2 linked regions of the Homo sapiens genome follow. The protein of the gene in region 1 purifies or fractionates together with the protein of each later gene. This does not show direct contact. Each region holds a gene or a part of one and is shown in the gene's direction. Other genes may lie near its edges.

Evidence for each region. Proteins that work in one complex are often made in the same cells at the same time.
Region 2: the proteins of PLEKHG7 (region 1) and RALGAPB purify together in Homo sapiens (affinity purification with mass spectrometry; 2 studies listed by BioGRID and IntAct, with this or other methods). This does not show direct contact.

Annotation. Positions count from the first base shown.
Region 1 is NC_000012.12:92,698,284-92,706,004, forward strand, and holds the start of PLEKHG7 (pleckstrin homology domain-containing family G member 7), read left to right. Parts: upstream 1-4,705; 5' UTR 4,706-4,849; intron 4,850-5,000; exon of another isoform or gene 5,001-5,005; coding exon of another isoform or gene 5,006-5,066; intron 5,067-7,721.
Region 2 is NC_000020.11:38,545,830-38,552,854, forward strand, and holds part of RALGAPB (ral GTPase-activating protein subunit beta), read left to right. Parts: intron 1-413; coding exon 414-601; intron 602-2,859; coding exon 2,860-2,966; intron 2,967-5,241; coding exon 5,242-5,394; intron 5,395-7,025. UniProt on the Homo sapiens protein: Non-catalytic subunit of the heterodimeric RalGAP1 and RalGAP2 complexes which act as GTPase activators for the Ras-like small GTPases RALA and RALB.

The DNA of each region.
Region 1 (7,721 bases):
AAACACATGGAACCTAAATGGAAATCACGACTCTGGAAAGGAGAGTGGATCACGGGTGCAGGGAGGCTGCTAACAAATGTCTACTAAAACTCCAATTCCAAGAGGTGAGTTGGCACTGTTCCAAGACTCAAAAGGCAGGAAAGCATAGGGAACTCATGGGAAGCCCGGCCCATTGGGTCCTTTCACTTGAGCTCTAGGAATGCACATCTGAGGGAAGGCCTCAGATGTGGCTCCTGGTCATAAGTCTGAAAGCAAGCAGAGGACTGGCCATGCTGGGGAGCCCTTCATTCCTGAATGAGTGTGATGGCACCCAGCTTATGCTCTGATTGTGGCTGCAGCTGTCACTCTAGGTCCCTGCCCCTTAAACTGCAAAATTGCTGAGCAAGCAATCAGAACCTAGTGAAATCCTTTGTCAACCCCAAATCAACACTGGCCAAGCAAAGATACCCTTCTCTAAGGAATGGCAAATGGAATAACTACTGAGCATAGTAAAAGAGCTTACAGGTCATAAGAATAAAGCAAAAAAATTCTAGGATGGCTCAGTAGAACTACTTTTTTTGAAACAGAGTTATTTCAAAAAACAGAAAAAATTAGAAATTATAATTCATGATTCTTTGACTTTAATTTTTAGACCACATATAGTTGAGTTAATCATAACCCTCAGTTCATGACACACTAAATAATCCATATTTTTGACATGAATCAAGAACCTACAGTCTGCCACCATGAAAACATTTTGTAATAAAAAAGAATTGCAAAGCCAGGAGCGGTGGCTCACACCTGTAATCCCAGCACTTTGGGAGGCTGAGATGGATGGATTACCTGAGGTCAGGAATTCAAGACCAGCCTGACCAACATGGTGAAATCCCGTCTCTACTAAAAATACAAAATCAGCCGGGTATGGTGGCACATGCCTGTAATCCCAGCTATTTGGGAGGCCGAGGCAGGAGAATCACTTGAACCCAGGAGGTGGAGGTTGCAGTGAGCCAAGATGGCACCACTGCACTCCAGCCTGGGCAACAAGAGCAAAAGTCCATCTAAAAAAGAATTGAGCTGAAATACTCCTATTTATCTTGAAAGGAAAATTGATGTTAAAGTCATTATGGAAACAGTTAAAGGCAATTTGGACTATGCAGAAAATGGAACAAGCAAAATAGCCAAATAGAAAACAGTATCAAGAAATTATCCCTAAGGTAAAAGCAATAGCAATAATGTAGAGAAAAGATAAAATATCAGAGTGAAGCGATAACTTCACTCTGAAGAGTGAAGAAAGAGAATGAGGAAAGTGAAGAGTGAAGTGAAGACAAAGAAGAATGGGGACTGAAGGAAAAGAATCAGTGGAAGAGAGATAAATGTCAAATAGCACAGAAAATATTTCTTATTTAGAAAAAATATTTTAAATAACAGAGAGTACACACCAGATATTTGGTAAACAGAACCCACCATGACATATGCTAGGTAAACCTCTCTACCTTCAAATATAAAAGAAAAAACTTAAGCCTGGACAACATACCAAGAACGTATCTCTTTTTTTTTTTTTTTTTTTGAGATAGAGTCTCACTCGGTCGCCCAGGCTGGAGTGCAGTGGCGTGATCTCAGCTCACTGCAGGCTCCATCCCCTGGGGTTCAGGCCATTCTCCTGCCTCAGCCTCCCGAGTAGCCAGGACTACAGGCACCCGCCACCTCGCCCGGCTAATTTTTTGTATTTTTAGTAGAGACGGGGTTTCACCGTGTTAGCCAGGATGGTCTCGATCTCCTGACCTCGTGATCTGCCCGCCTCTGCCTCCCAAAGTGCTGGGATTACAGGCGTGAGCCACCATGCCCGGCCAACCCTATCTTTTAAAAAAATTCAAAATAAAAAATTAGCAGCATTCCCTGTAGTCCCAGCTACTGGGGAGGCTAAGGCAAGAGGACCACTTGAGCCCAGGAGTTTGAGATCAGCTTGATATAGCAAGACCTAATCCCAATAAAATTATATATATATAATGTTCTATTGTATTGTGTGTGTATATATATATTTCACACTTCAATAGAACATACACAATCTCACAAAGAAGTAAAAAAAAATTTAAGAGTATGGTACCCAGCAAAGAGTAAATATTCTATTGACCTCCTATTTCAACTATTAATGACTGAAATCATGCAAAAATGTCTACAGACCTTTAAAGGAAAATACCATGTTGCAAGAATTCCATGCCCTGCACATGTGATAGCAAAATAAAGTCATTTTGGGGTATGAAACAGCTCAGAATATGTACTACCTAGAAACTTTTCCTAAATAAATACCTCAGAAATATTGAAAGATATCAAGATGCATTGATATTAATCTGATAGTCACCTTTTTTTGTTTTGGTTTGTTTTTGAGAGACAGGATCTTTCTCTGTCACCCAGACTGCAGTACAGTGGCATGATCACGGCTCACTGCAACCTCAGCCCAAGCATTCCTCCCACTTCAGCCTCCCAAGTAGCTGGGACTACAGGTGCCCAACACCACACCCAACTAATTTTTGTATTTTTTGTGGAGACGGGGTTTCAGCATGTTGCCCAGGCTGGTCCCAAACTCCTGGGCTCAATCAGTCTGCCCACCTTGGCCTTCCAAAGTGCTGGGATTACAGGCATCAGCCACTGTGCCCAGCTATATTAATCATTGTAAATATGGTACAACTGAATTTTTGTAGCCCTAAAACCTAAAAGGAAGCTCAAATAAATCTCATACCTCTTTTCAACAACTAGAAAGAAAATATCTTTTAGGAATTTGCCAATTCAAAGCCATAAAGTAAGCAAACCAGGATGTCATCTTTTAGCATAGACATACTTTTTAAGGTATACTTTTTATTGAAGCAAAGCATACATAAACGTAAAACTACACACAGGCAAAAAATGCTGAGGCGAGCTGCTCCCTCTGCGATATTGGAGAGCACCTCCATGTGTCATCTGAGAAAGGGCCACAGTGAGGTTGCCCCAGGTTCTTAAAGGAAAAGCTGACTCTGGGGTGTCCCTTCCCCACCCAAAATGCCTCCCTGTTGCCATCTCCTTGACAAATCAGATGGAGGTGGCACATTTTTTTCCGTGATAATCTTTTGTGACCTTTCTATAAGACTCTTAATTTCCTTCTTGAAGTTACAACCAGAGGTTGGAAGTTTTTGCATTGGGATCAAGTATTCCATTATCATTATCCCCTAGGAGAGACAGCTTTACAATCCCATGTGCGTGAGGGGATTGGTAGAAAAGAGTATGACCTTCCTTCCACAAACTAAAAGCTAAAAGACTTTATTCATTTTTTTCCTTCCCAAATTGAAGCAATTCACTTCTAGACATCCTTGGCAGGAGCTCAGAACTGTTTATGCAGGCTCCATGCAGGCAAAATATTTTTTGATATCCTGCTTTTGGTTGAGTCATGGTAATGTTGGCAATGGTGGTGAGGGCAGGAGATCAAGTCATTTTTCAAAGTTCTAAGTAAATGATGTTCTAGTAAGATCAATATGAGAGAATTAAAGACTAATATAAAGTTTATCACAAGGCCAACATCTATAAGTTAGACCTTTTTTTCTTTTCCTCTAAGGGCAGTGGTTCTCAAATTTTAACCCATGTAAGAATCACCTGGAAGTCTTGTTAAACACAGACTTCTGGCTGGGCACAGTGGCTCACACCTGTAATCCCAGCACTTTGGGAGGCCGAAGTGGGTGGACCACCTGAGGTCAGGAGTTCGGACAGCCTGGCCAATATGGTGAAACCCCGTCTGTACTAAAAATACAAAAGTTAGCCGGGCCCTGGTGGTGTGCACCTGTAATCTCAGCTACACAGGAAGCTGAGGTAGGAGAATCGCTTGAACCCAGGAGGTGGAGGTTGCAGTGAGCTGAGATCGTGCCACTGCACTCCAGCCTGAGTGACAGAGTGAGACCCTGTCTCAAAAAAAAACCACGGACTTCTGACCCCATCCCAGAGTTCCAGGGGTTGGAGAGCATGGAGGGGGAAGATTTTTCCTTTCTAACAAGTTCTCAAGTCATAGTGATACTGCTGGTCCAGGGACCCTACTTTAAGAACTACCGACCTCAGGGAACCTTCACAGTAAGTATCTGTAATGAGTCCAATCAATGAAAACTTCAGTGAATTAGACTTCATTAGAATTACTTCAACTTTGTTTTGGGAAAGTCTATAGACATTTTTGTTTAATGCTGCATACATATGCATTATCTCCACCTAGGCATCAAATAAATATTCTTTGGGGTACTGATCTAATGAGAATACTGGTAGATATAAATGCTCTTCCATTTGCATTTTAATTATTTGAAAACTAATGTTCACAAATTCACTCCCTGGTGCTCTAATCATTTCCTCTACTATTCAATGCTTATCAAAGCAAGTCATTAATAAAATAGATCAACACAAAATGTTTTATGATGTGAAGAAAGTAGAGTCCCAAAGAATGCATCTCACAACCTTAGAGAAAATAAATGAAATAGAAACCTAGAACTGCTTCACTGAACTATGAGTGATGATTTGTTGAATGCCTCAAGAGGAAGTAAAAAGTTACATTTGCATCATTTCTGTATTTGATCAGCCGTTGTTTACCTGACTTGTTCTTAGGCTGCCTTAGATTCTGAGCTGGCTTCCCTTTAGGCTTTTTCATAAACAAATAACTGGAAATGTCTCTAAGGAGGGGAGAGACCAGTTCCTCATTGCAGCTGGTAGCAAGGTTGCTTTCACTCAGCCAGGAGGACGCATTGTTACAGGTGTGGAACTTGTTGCTCCGAGCCCTCGCCTGGCAGCTCACTCTGGATCTGCGGGTTCTGAGGAGCCTCGGGACCCACCTGGGTGCAGTTGCCTTCAGGGACAGACCATCTTACAGGTATTAAAGGCAACATTCAGCTGCTTTCTGGGTTTCTCTCTTGCACTTTCCTTTTGTCCTATTGCTATCAGTTTCGCTTGTTTTGCTGATCTCTCCAGGTCTCATTAGAATTAGTGAATCATTAACCTGCAATGGTTTCATTTCTAGTACAGTGAGATGGCTTCCCCAACAGTGTGGGTGGGTGTTTGCTGGATTCTCAAAGCTTGGAAGGTCAAAGGTTGGTGAATTTTCTTTATGGTGACCATGTATTAATTTCCTCTTTTAAACATAAAGAAGAGTTAGCATGAATGGATTGACTTGTTAACTTTTGATTCTACCAGATCCACTGGGTGTAGTCATTTAGGGAAAGCTTCCCAGGAGCCTTAGCCATTATCTCATTTAATTTCTGCAACAGGCCTGTGAGGGAGGTTCTTTGATGTCCTCTTGGTAAATGCTGCATGGCAGTTGGCAGAGGAGAAGTGGCTTGTCCTAGGTCACACAGCCAATTGGCGGTGATACTGGAAGAGAAACCAGACCCATTTCTTCTGGTGCTTGAGCTCTTCCTGCCTTTCTGCAAACCACCTCCCTAAGCCCTGCTGTTTTTAAAGTTTCTCCATTTCCGCAGTGCATCATGTCGGCAGTTACTATTGCCTTGGTTCCAATATTTAAGACAGTGGCTAATAAATAATTCTTACCGATGTGAATCCTATTGGCCATAAATAACTTCCTACCAGCAGCTACACCCCTGTGTCTGAACGACTACAAAGGAAACCCAAAGCCGTATCCTAACCCCTCAAAAGAGGAGAGGAAAAGGCCAGAAGGACAGAGGGGAAACCCAAAGACTAAGAAATCTGATCTAACTATTATGCAAGTGCCTATGCAAATATACTGAATTCCTTTAACATTGTTGCTGCCTAGAACTTGGACAGTCTTCTAAAGGAGAAAAATAATAGAACGGCCCTGATTGTATGTATGTGTGAAAGTACCTATTGATTCAAAATTAGCTGGGTGGGGTGGTAAGCATCCATAGCCCCAACTACTCAGGAGCACTGCAGCATGAGGATTCTGTGAGGCTAGGAGTTTGAGGTTACAGTGCGATATGATCACACCTCTGCACTCAGCCTGGGCGACAGAGCCAGACTCCATCTCTAAAAAGAAAAAAAAAAAGAAAGAAAGTACCTATAGATTTGATGCTCAGCTCAGCATTTGTTTGTTGGGAGAATGAGGAACTGGCCTCTCCATGTAGCAACAATGTACCTTATTTTATCAATGGTAGGGAGGGACCATTTCATACCTCTCCAGCAATGTTGGTATCAACCTTCAGAGCAGCCTCCAGGAATTACCAATCTAAAACCAAAACTAGTACAATCTCACCTTAACTGAACATAAGTTTCCTAAACTGGCATTGCCCTCTTTCCTCCACTCTGCAAAAAAGGGTACCTCATGGGTTTTAGTTCTACATGTGAAGTTCTATAACAATTGAGTCCTCAGCTCAAAATAAAGCAAACACAACATTAAGAATTTTAGATTTCTTTTGTGAATAAGAGTTGAATTGACGTTAGTTTGCATCTAAGTTGTTCCTCAAACAACTCACCAGTCTGAAATCCAGTACCTGTTAGTTTCATTTGGCATTTTAAAAAGGTTTTTATAGAGATGGGGTCTCACTATGTTGCCCAGGCTGGTCTTGAACTTCTAGGCTCAAGGGATCCTCCCGCCTTTGCCTCCCAAAGTGCTCGGATTACAGGCATGAGCCTCTGTGCCTGGACTTACTTGACCTTAAACAAGGTAAGAGTCAGGGAGTAAAATAAGAGACCACAAAGTCCCCAAAATCAATGTCAAGTCACAACATTGTCATGACAATGTCATAACATTGAGCTCCTCCTCTACTGATAGGAATAGATCTAACAACCTATTAATTATCTATTCACAAGGTTGTTGGACTTCTATGACTGACACAGATTAAAAGAAACAAAGAGGAGAGAGTGGTTGCCATAGGCAAGTACAAAAAGCATAGTGAGAAGTAAGGAATAAAAATTAGGGAGTACATTGGTGTGGGGCCATTTGGTGTGGGAGTGAATATTCAGATGCTATAGAAGCCTGTAACAATTATTGTATTCTCCACAGAACTATAGTAAACATAGTAGTAATCACTGTATTTTGGCAAAGTACTAGAATGATAGTCAACAGAATGAGGTCAGGTTATAAGGAAAAGGTTTATTGGTTTTCAGCCTTCTCTATATCAAGTTAAAGAAGCAAATAATACACCCTAGAAAAGTTCTACTAAAAAGTATTGCCCATGCAATTAAAATTATAAGAAGTAAATTATTAGCCATTCTTAAATTTTGGCTATCCAAATGTGGGCAAAGGGTTTCAGATTGCTGAGTTCTGCTTTAGAATGATAAACTTACTAAAACTATTATTGATGATCTTGGAATATACGGTCAACTACTAATGTTCCATCCACAAACAATCCACGCACAGTCTGAAGCCACCTCCCATGCCATCTGCGGCCAGGGAAGATGGGTCTCTCGCCTGTCCCACAGTCCCACACCTGGTCTGCAAATCATCAAGCATCAACTCTCATGCCATAAGGGATGTGTAAGGATTGATGTTTTCCCACACATACCTTCTTCATGTGGGAAAGTACAGAATAACGAAACTGCAATAAGCCACTCCCATGAATCAAGCTGTGAAATGGAAGGGTCAGCTTTTCTTGAGCATGAGAAGAGATAATTCTGCATGCATAGATTGCAAAAAACACCTCCAATCATGAACAGTAGGGTACCTGGTGATGTCTGGGTTTTTCTTTTCAAACCTGCAAGTCCTTTTTCCAAAATGTAAAGATTGATAGAATCTAAGATAAAAGACGTTGTCAGATACTTTACATCAGTTA
Region 2 (7,025 bases), on another chromosome or scaffold:
AATGGGATAGAGACGGTTGTCACAAAGCATATGGAATATGAGCTTGCTGTGTTCCATGCAAGATTCTAAGATATCAGATAGGTTGCTGGTAAGGGAGTAGGTCACTAAGATCAAATTATACCAGCCTAACTGCATTTTCTGTTCCGGATATTGACCAGACTGGAAAGGCAGATTAAATGTCTCTGAAATAAAGACATACAGGTATGCATCTGGGGTAATGGGCTTTTTAATCTTGGAGGGGAGAGTCTGGACAGCATGCCATGGCATTCACCACAAGGAGTAAATCTGACCTGTCAAGAAGCATGGCTGTGGTCAATTAAAATTCAGAAGAGTGGAAGGGGACACATTGATGCACAAGGTAAACTGAAGATTTTGCTTTGGGAATTAACTGTTATCTTTTCCATTCTCCATAGCATTATGCAGTTGCTCGGCGCATTTCCTTCACCTAGTGGTCCTGCCTCTCCTTGTAGTCTTGTGAATGAGACCACTTTGATTAAATACTCCAGGCTGCCAACCATAAACAAGCATAGTTTCCGGTACTTTGTCTTGGATAACAGTGTCATCCTGGCAATGCTGGAACAACCTCTTGGAAATGAGCAGAGTAAGTTTATAGTACTTTGAGCCTTCTCTACTGCTTAATCAGTGTTACCAGTACCATGAAGCTGTTTCCAGGATCAGGGAAGGACAGCCTACAGATTCTAAGTAGGTCAGAAAGATTTCTAGCTGTGGGACAATAGCACCTGAAAAATAGGGGGGCAAAAAAATAGAATATACATATTACATAGAGTCTTTTAAAGGCTCTTGATGTGCATCTGAACTAGCTCTGTAGTTTTATAAAAGGTGGTGTTTTAGTGGGTTCCATTGTGTTGTTTATCTTTGTCACTTTTTCTTCCCCCTTGAACTTCGGATCCTGCCCCTCTGCTCCCCTCCCTCTCACTCCTCATGTTCTGTATCAATTGTTGGTGCTACCTACACAGGCTAGAAACTTGAGGAGTTATCTTTACCTGCCCCTTCCTGTTACTCACTTATATAATTAGTTTCTAAGTTTCCATCTTCCCAGGGACCCTTGAATTTTTCCTTTCCTCTGTATTTTCCCAATACATCCAAGTGCAGGTCCTTATTATTTCTCACCTAGATTATTACAGCTGTTTCCTACCTACTCTGATTCCCTCAACCCCTAAACCCCTTGCCAGTTCTAACATGTGTTTTCCCTACTTTCATCCTACTTGCTGCCACCATAGTATTCATCTTCAACCACAAATGACCATGCCAGTGCCCTACTGAAAATCCTTCAGTGATTTTCCATTAACACAACATGCACTGTTTTCCTCCTTTCCCTCCCCCTCAGTTATAAGCCATCTCACAATATGTGATTATCACTGCGACCCAAACTATCCACAAGTACATTTTTTTTTTCTGATGGTAATTGGCATCAGCCAGTATGTAAAAGAAGCATGTTCTCAGACCCTTATTGCTGGGAAGGGGAAGGAAAGTGAAGGTTACAGAATCTGTGGGTATAAAGTGACCCATGGAGTCACCTGGTATACAATTCCCTTAGTTATGAGTGAAAAAACTCAGGCTCACAGAGGGTATATGACTTGCCCAGGGTTACTTGGGACTAGAGCCCAGATTTTCTAAACCCTGTATTGTCCCTTTCTATTATTATTGTCGCACAGTGATAGGATTTGCTCAGTGATTAAAGATTTGCCTTCTTGCCTTTGTAAAGGTGAAGAGTTCTGTGCCAGTTTTGTTGATTATATGAGTAAGAGCTCATAAATCCATGAAGTGAAAGTGAGACATTTCCCTGCAGTTTGAGATGAAAAGAATACCATCATAAACTTCTGTTGTGTTGTGGTGAGATGCGGTGACATTAATGTGAAATGGAATGGTGCCTTTTATTATTGTCTAACTTCAGAACTGCTACTCCCAAGTCTTTTCTACAGGCATCTCATCCTTCTCTACCCTAGACATGGAGCTTGCTTGGCTTTCTTTCCTAGCCTGTGCCTGTTCATGATTCCTCCAGCCTCCTACTCCAAGCCATCTGCTGAGGAGTCTGCAAAATCCCAGTGTCCCCTTCAGGCTTCCTGGCCTTTTTCCAGCTTTTTAAAGACTCTCCTACTTTCATTCCAAATAATTTCATTGCATAGGAAGTGTACCAAAAATACAAGCAATTGGAATTGTATAGATTTACAAGGACATTTTAATAGTTTATTGTAATAATAAGAAATTATAGAGAAGTTTGAAGGCGTTTGACTCCCATATCTGAGACGGAAGAATAAAAAAAAGGATCTGGGTCACTCGGGAAGTCCATCCTGAGTGTTTTTTTTAACACCCCCATCATGTCCCTGAACTTCTGCTGAGATGGAACAGTGCCTGCCTGTGGTGGGCAGTGGTACACAAAGGCATGGGCAGATATAACACTAACACTGCAAACACCCAGTCTGTCTTTCTACACTTAAGTTGTTCCCAACATTGGGAGGTTAAGAGTATTTACTAGGACAGTGTTTCCCACAAATGTGTACATGTACCATTGGAGGTATGTGAGATGATCTTAGTTGATACATTAGTGAACATTATTTTATGTATTTTTAAGCATGTGCTTTAAAATTATATAATTAGTACATGCCAAAATTCATGATTTTCCATTTAGAGATGCACAAGAGTGGTTGATACAAAGTAATAGTACTTACAGTACACGGGTATGGGTACGGCAGAAACCACAGAAGTGGTACACAAAAGATCAAAGCTTAGGAAACACTGTTGGGCCTTTGATTATGAGAAGCTCTGCAGTTGATAACAAGTTTATTTTAAATGGTTGTTGTCTGAAATTAAAACTTTTATATACATATTTTATTCTAGATGATTTTTTCCCCTCTGTCACTGTGCTGGTCCGGGGAATGTCTGGAAGACTTGCTTGGGCACAACAGCTTTGTCTTTTACCCAGAGGAGCAAAAGCAAATCAGAAGGTATTCATCAGAAGTTACAGGGAAGTGTGTGTGTGTTTTGTAATTTAAAGGTTAGGTAACATTCCAACAGAAGACACAGATCAAATAAATATTTTTGATCCCTAGCCAGATTCTCAGTCAGTGGGTTCATATCAGAATCATCTAGGAACCTAGAATTCCAGATGTACTCAATTACTCTTTAAAGACATGTTCAAGGCAGGTGTCTTTTCAAAAAGCTTTCCAGGTGATTCTGACATCTACTTAGGAGTAATTGCTGTTGTGGACAATGGCCCCAGTTTTTTCCATGTAATTTTACAAATGTAATAAAAGTCAGATATATACCATACGTGAAAAAAATTTGGTGGGACTTTTGATTTGTCCGCAACAGGACTTAGTTTGAAATTGTTTTATATGATTTGTTCTTATATAATAATTGGTAATATATTGTATAAATTTTATTTTTTTTATAAAGAGTCAGGGTCTTGTTCTGTTGCCCAGACTGGAGTGCAGTGGTGTAATCATAGCTCACTGCAGCCTCAAGCTCCTGGGCTCCAGTGATCCTCTTGCCTCATCCTCCTGAGTAGCTGAGACTGTAGGCACATGCCATGGCACCCAGCTCATTTTTAAAATTTTTTGTAGAGATAGGGTCTTGCTTTGTTGCCCAGGCTGATCCCAAACTTCTGTCTTCAAGTGATCTTCCCACCTCAGCTTCCCAAAGTGTTAGGATTACAGATGTGAGCTGTCACACCCAGCCTAATTAAAAAAAAAAAAAAAAATATATATATATATACACACACACACACATACATATACACACACACACACACATATGTATGCTGTGTATAATTTAATGAAATCTTTTGGGGTGCAGTTTATTTTATTACATTTGTAATTATGTGAATAATACTTGAGAAGTTGGAAAAATTCAGATAACGAAGAAATTTTAAATCACCTTTACTCACTATCCAGAGGAATATAACCACTGCTAATATTTTATTGGATTTCCTTCCCTTTTTTTCTTTTCATACACAATAACACTTGAATAGAATTTGAGTCATTTTGTATACTGCTCTTTTCATTTATAACATTGTAAGCTTTTATTTCTGCTATTAAAAATATAAAATGTCCAACAATGATAGACTGGATTAAGAAAATGTGGCACATATACACCATGGAACACTATGCAGCCATAAAAAATGATGAGTTCATGTCCTTTGTAGGGACATGGATGAAATTGGAAATCATCATTCTCAGTAAACTATCGCAAGAACAAAAAACCAAACACCGCATATTCTCACTCATAGGTGGGAATTGAACAGTGGGAACACATGGACACAGGAGGGGGAACATCACACTCTGGGGCCTGTTGTCGGGTAGGGGGAGTGGGGAGGGATAGCAATGGGAGATATACCTAATGCTAGATGACGAGTTAGTGGGTGCAGCGCACCAGCATGTCACATGTATACATATTTAACTAACCTGCACATTATGCACATGTACCCTAAAACTTAAAGTATCATAATAAAAAAATGTGATTAAAAAAAATTTAAAATGTGACTTAATATTTCACTAGCATTTGAGAGACACCACAAAATTGGAGCATGTGCCTAAAATCATTTAATATCTTAGATGTCTCTGTTAGATGTGATGTGTTTATCACCCAGTCCTCCATTTTTTTGGAGGGGGCAGTACAGAGCACATCCTGTCATCAACTCTGTAAGCCAGTAAGTTAGCATTGAAGACTGAAGAGGAAGGGGACCAGGAAAGGAGCTAAAATTTGTTTAGGGTTCACCATGTACCCATATACATATTAAAGCATGGATTTGGAGCTGTGAAGACCTAGATTTGGTGCCCATACTCTCAATTAAGCCGTATTAAGATTCTTGTTAAAATCACTTTCTAGAGATGCCCAGTGAAGCCAAACTTGTCTTTAATTATATTGAATGATGTGAGAGCCCCTGGGGAAGAGAGTTTGAGTCTTAAAGCTCCAAAATGCTATACCCATTGGATAACCACTGAATGTGGGAGATTCAGGCCTGCAGCAGTAGAGGTCCACAGCCCATTTGTCAGTCATTAGATCTATAAGAAGTCGATGAATATTTTTAGAAAAATAGAGTACACAGGGGCACAGGCTGCTTCCCTTTGCTGTTATCTGTAGCATTTGCAGGTTCTGAGTGAGTTTTTGTGACATGTAATCCTAGGGAAACACAGGCATCTAAGAGACCAGGGAAATACATGTCATTACAGATGGGTATTGGACCCTGTGTAATAAACATAATGTTACTTGTTTTAACAGCTTTTTGTACCTGAACCTCGCCCAGTTCCTAAAAATGACGTTGGATTTAAATATTCTGTGAAACATCGGCCATTTCCTGAAGAGGTGGACAAGATTCCTTTTGTGAAAGCAGATCTCAGCATTCCAGATTTGCATGAAATAGTCACTGAAGAAGTAAGTACATTATTTTTAGCTGTTGTCAAGGGGATGAATAGAAACATTCTTACGACTTCCTTGGTCAAGACAATGCTTTTAGTGTTGTTGGAGATGATTTTTAAGATGACATGGGCCTCCATCATCCAGGAGGTTGCCATGTTTAAGACGAATATAGATTGTGGCTGATCGAAAGGAACTGCATATCTCTTAGAGGTGTTGCTGGGCTGCCTGGCTGTTCGTGGTAGGTTTCAGTACTGTAGTGACATGATCAGACTCTGGTAGTAGAGTTATTTGGAAAAGGAAGACCAGTTCAGAGACTATTATGAGAATCTAAGTCTTTATAAGAAAGGAAGGACTATTTCACTCATATGGAATTTTAATATATAAAATGTATTGTGGAGGTAGATCCAAGCAGTCTTGAATTGGTGAGGGAAGGAAAAGAGCCAAAGAATTTCAGATTTTGAGCTTGAGTGACAAAGAGATATCAGTGCCATTTACAGAAATGCAGACATTAGGAAGAGGATAGATTTGGGAAGATGGGAAAAATTTATTTGGCTTTGGATTAATTTAGAGAGTTAATTAAGATAACTGTCTCTTAGGTCAAGGGAGAAGAATTTTAAGAAGTCGGGGACAGAAGTATGTCAGGACATGAGAGAACAGAAGAGCAGGAATGGAGGAAGGGCTACACTCTCCAATGCTGGAGAGACCAGGGAGAAGAAGGAATAGAAAAAGTCCCCTGAATTTTGGCATGAAATTTAGGTGACCTTTGAGAACAGGTGTGTACAGTAGGAGGGATAATTCAAAGGGCTGGGGAGTGAATGTATTGAGGGACAGGCAGTGAATAGAAACTACACTGTTAACAGTAAAGGCAAGGGTACAGAATGGGTAATATTATAGCTTAAGGAAATGGCCTCGTTAAGGAAAGAAAAGGCTGATTTTTTTTTTTTTTTCTGAGATGGAGTTTCGCTCTTGTTGCCCAGACTAGAGTACAGTTGTGCATTCTCAGCTCACTGCAATCTCCGCCTCCCGGGTTCAAGTGATTCTCCTACCTCAGCCTCCCAAGTAGCTGTGATTACAGGCGCATGCCACCATGCCTGGCCAATTTTTGTATTTTTAGTAGAGACGGGATTTCACCATGTTGGCCAAGCCGGTCTCGAACTCCTGACCTCAGGTGATCCACCCTCCTTTGCCTCCCCTCAAAGTGCTGAGAATTACAGGTGTAAGCCATCGCACCCGGCCAGAAAAGGCTAGTTTTTAAATATTTTTTTACATTCAAGGATGTGAGGATTATGAACATGCTTATAGATTGAAAGGAAGAAACCAGTAGAGAGGAGTCTGGCTAACACTGTAAGATGGGCAGTGGGACTTACAAGTAATAGAGGCAGTAGGGTCAAGAGTCTAGTCTAGAAAAGAGATGCTTCTAAGACAGAAGGAGAGAGTAGGTGAAGGTTCAGAGACATTTAGAGAGGAAAGGAGGGAAATTGAAGAAGTTTATGAAAATTTTAATCCTGGTTCTTGGCAGTGTAATAGGGGATCCCAGACAGTTCTTAAGAATTGCCAGGCAGTGCAGCTGAGGTTAAGTAGCATTATCTATAGTGAAGTTATTTAACTCACTCTGCTGACTTTCTTCAAAAGTCCTTGGGATCTGG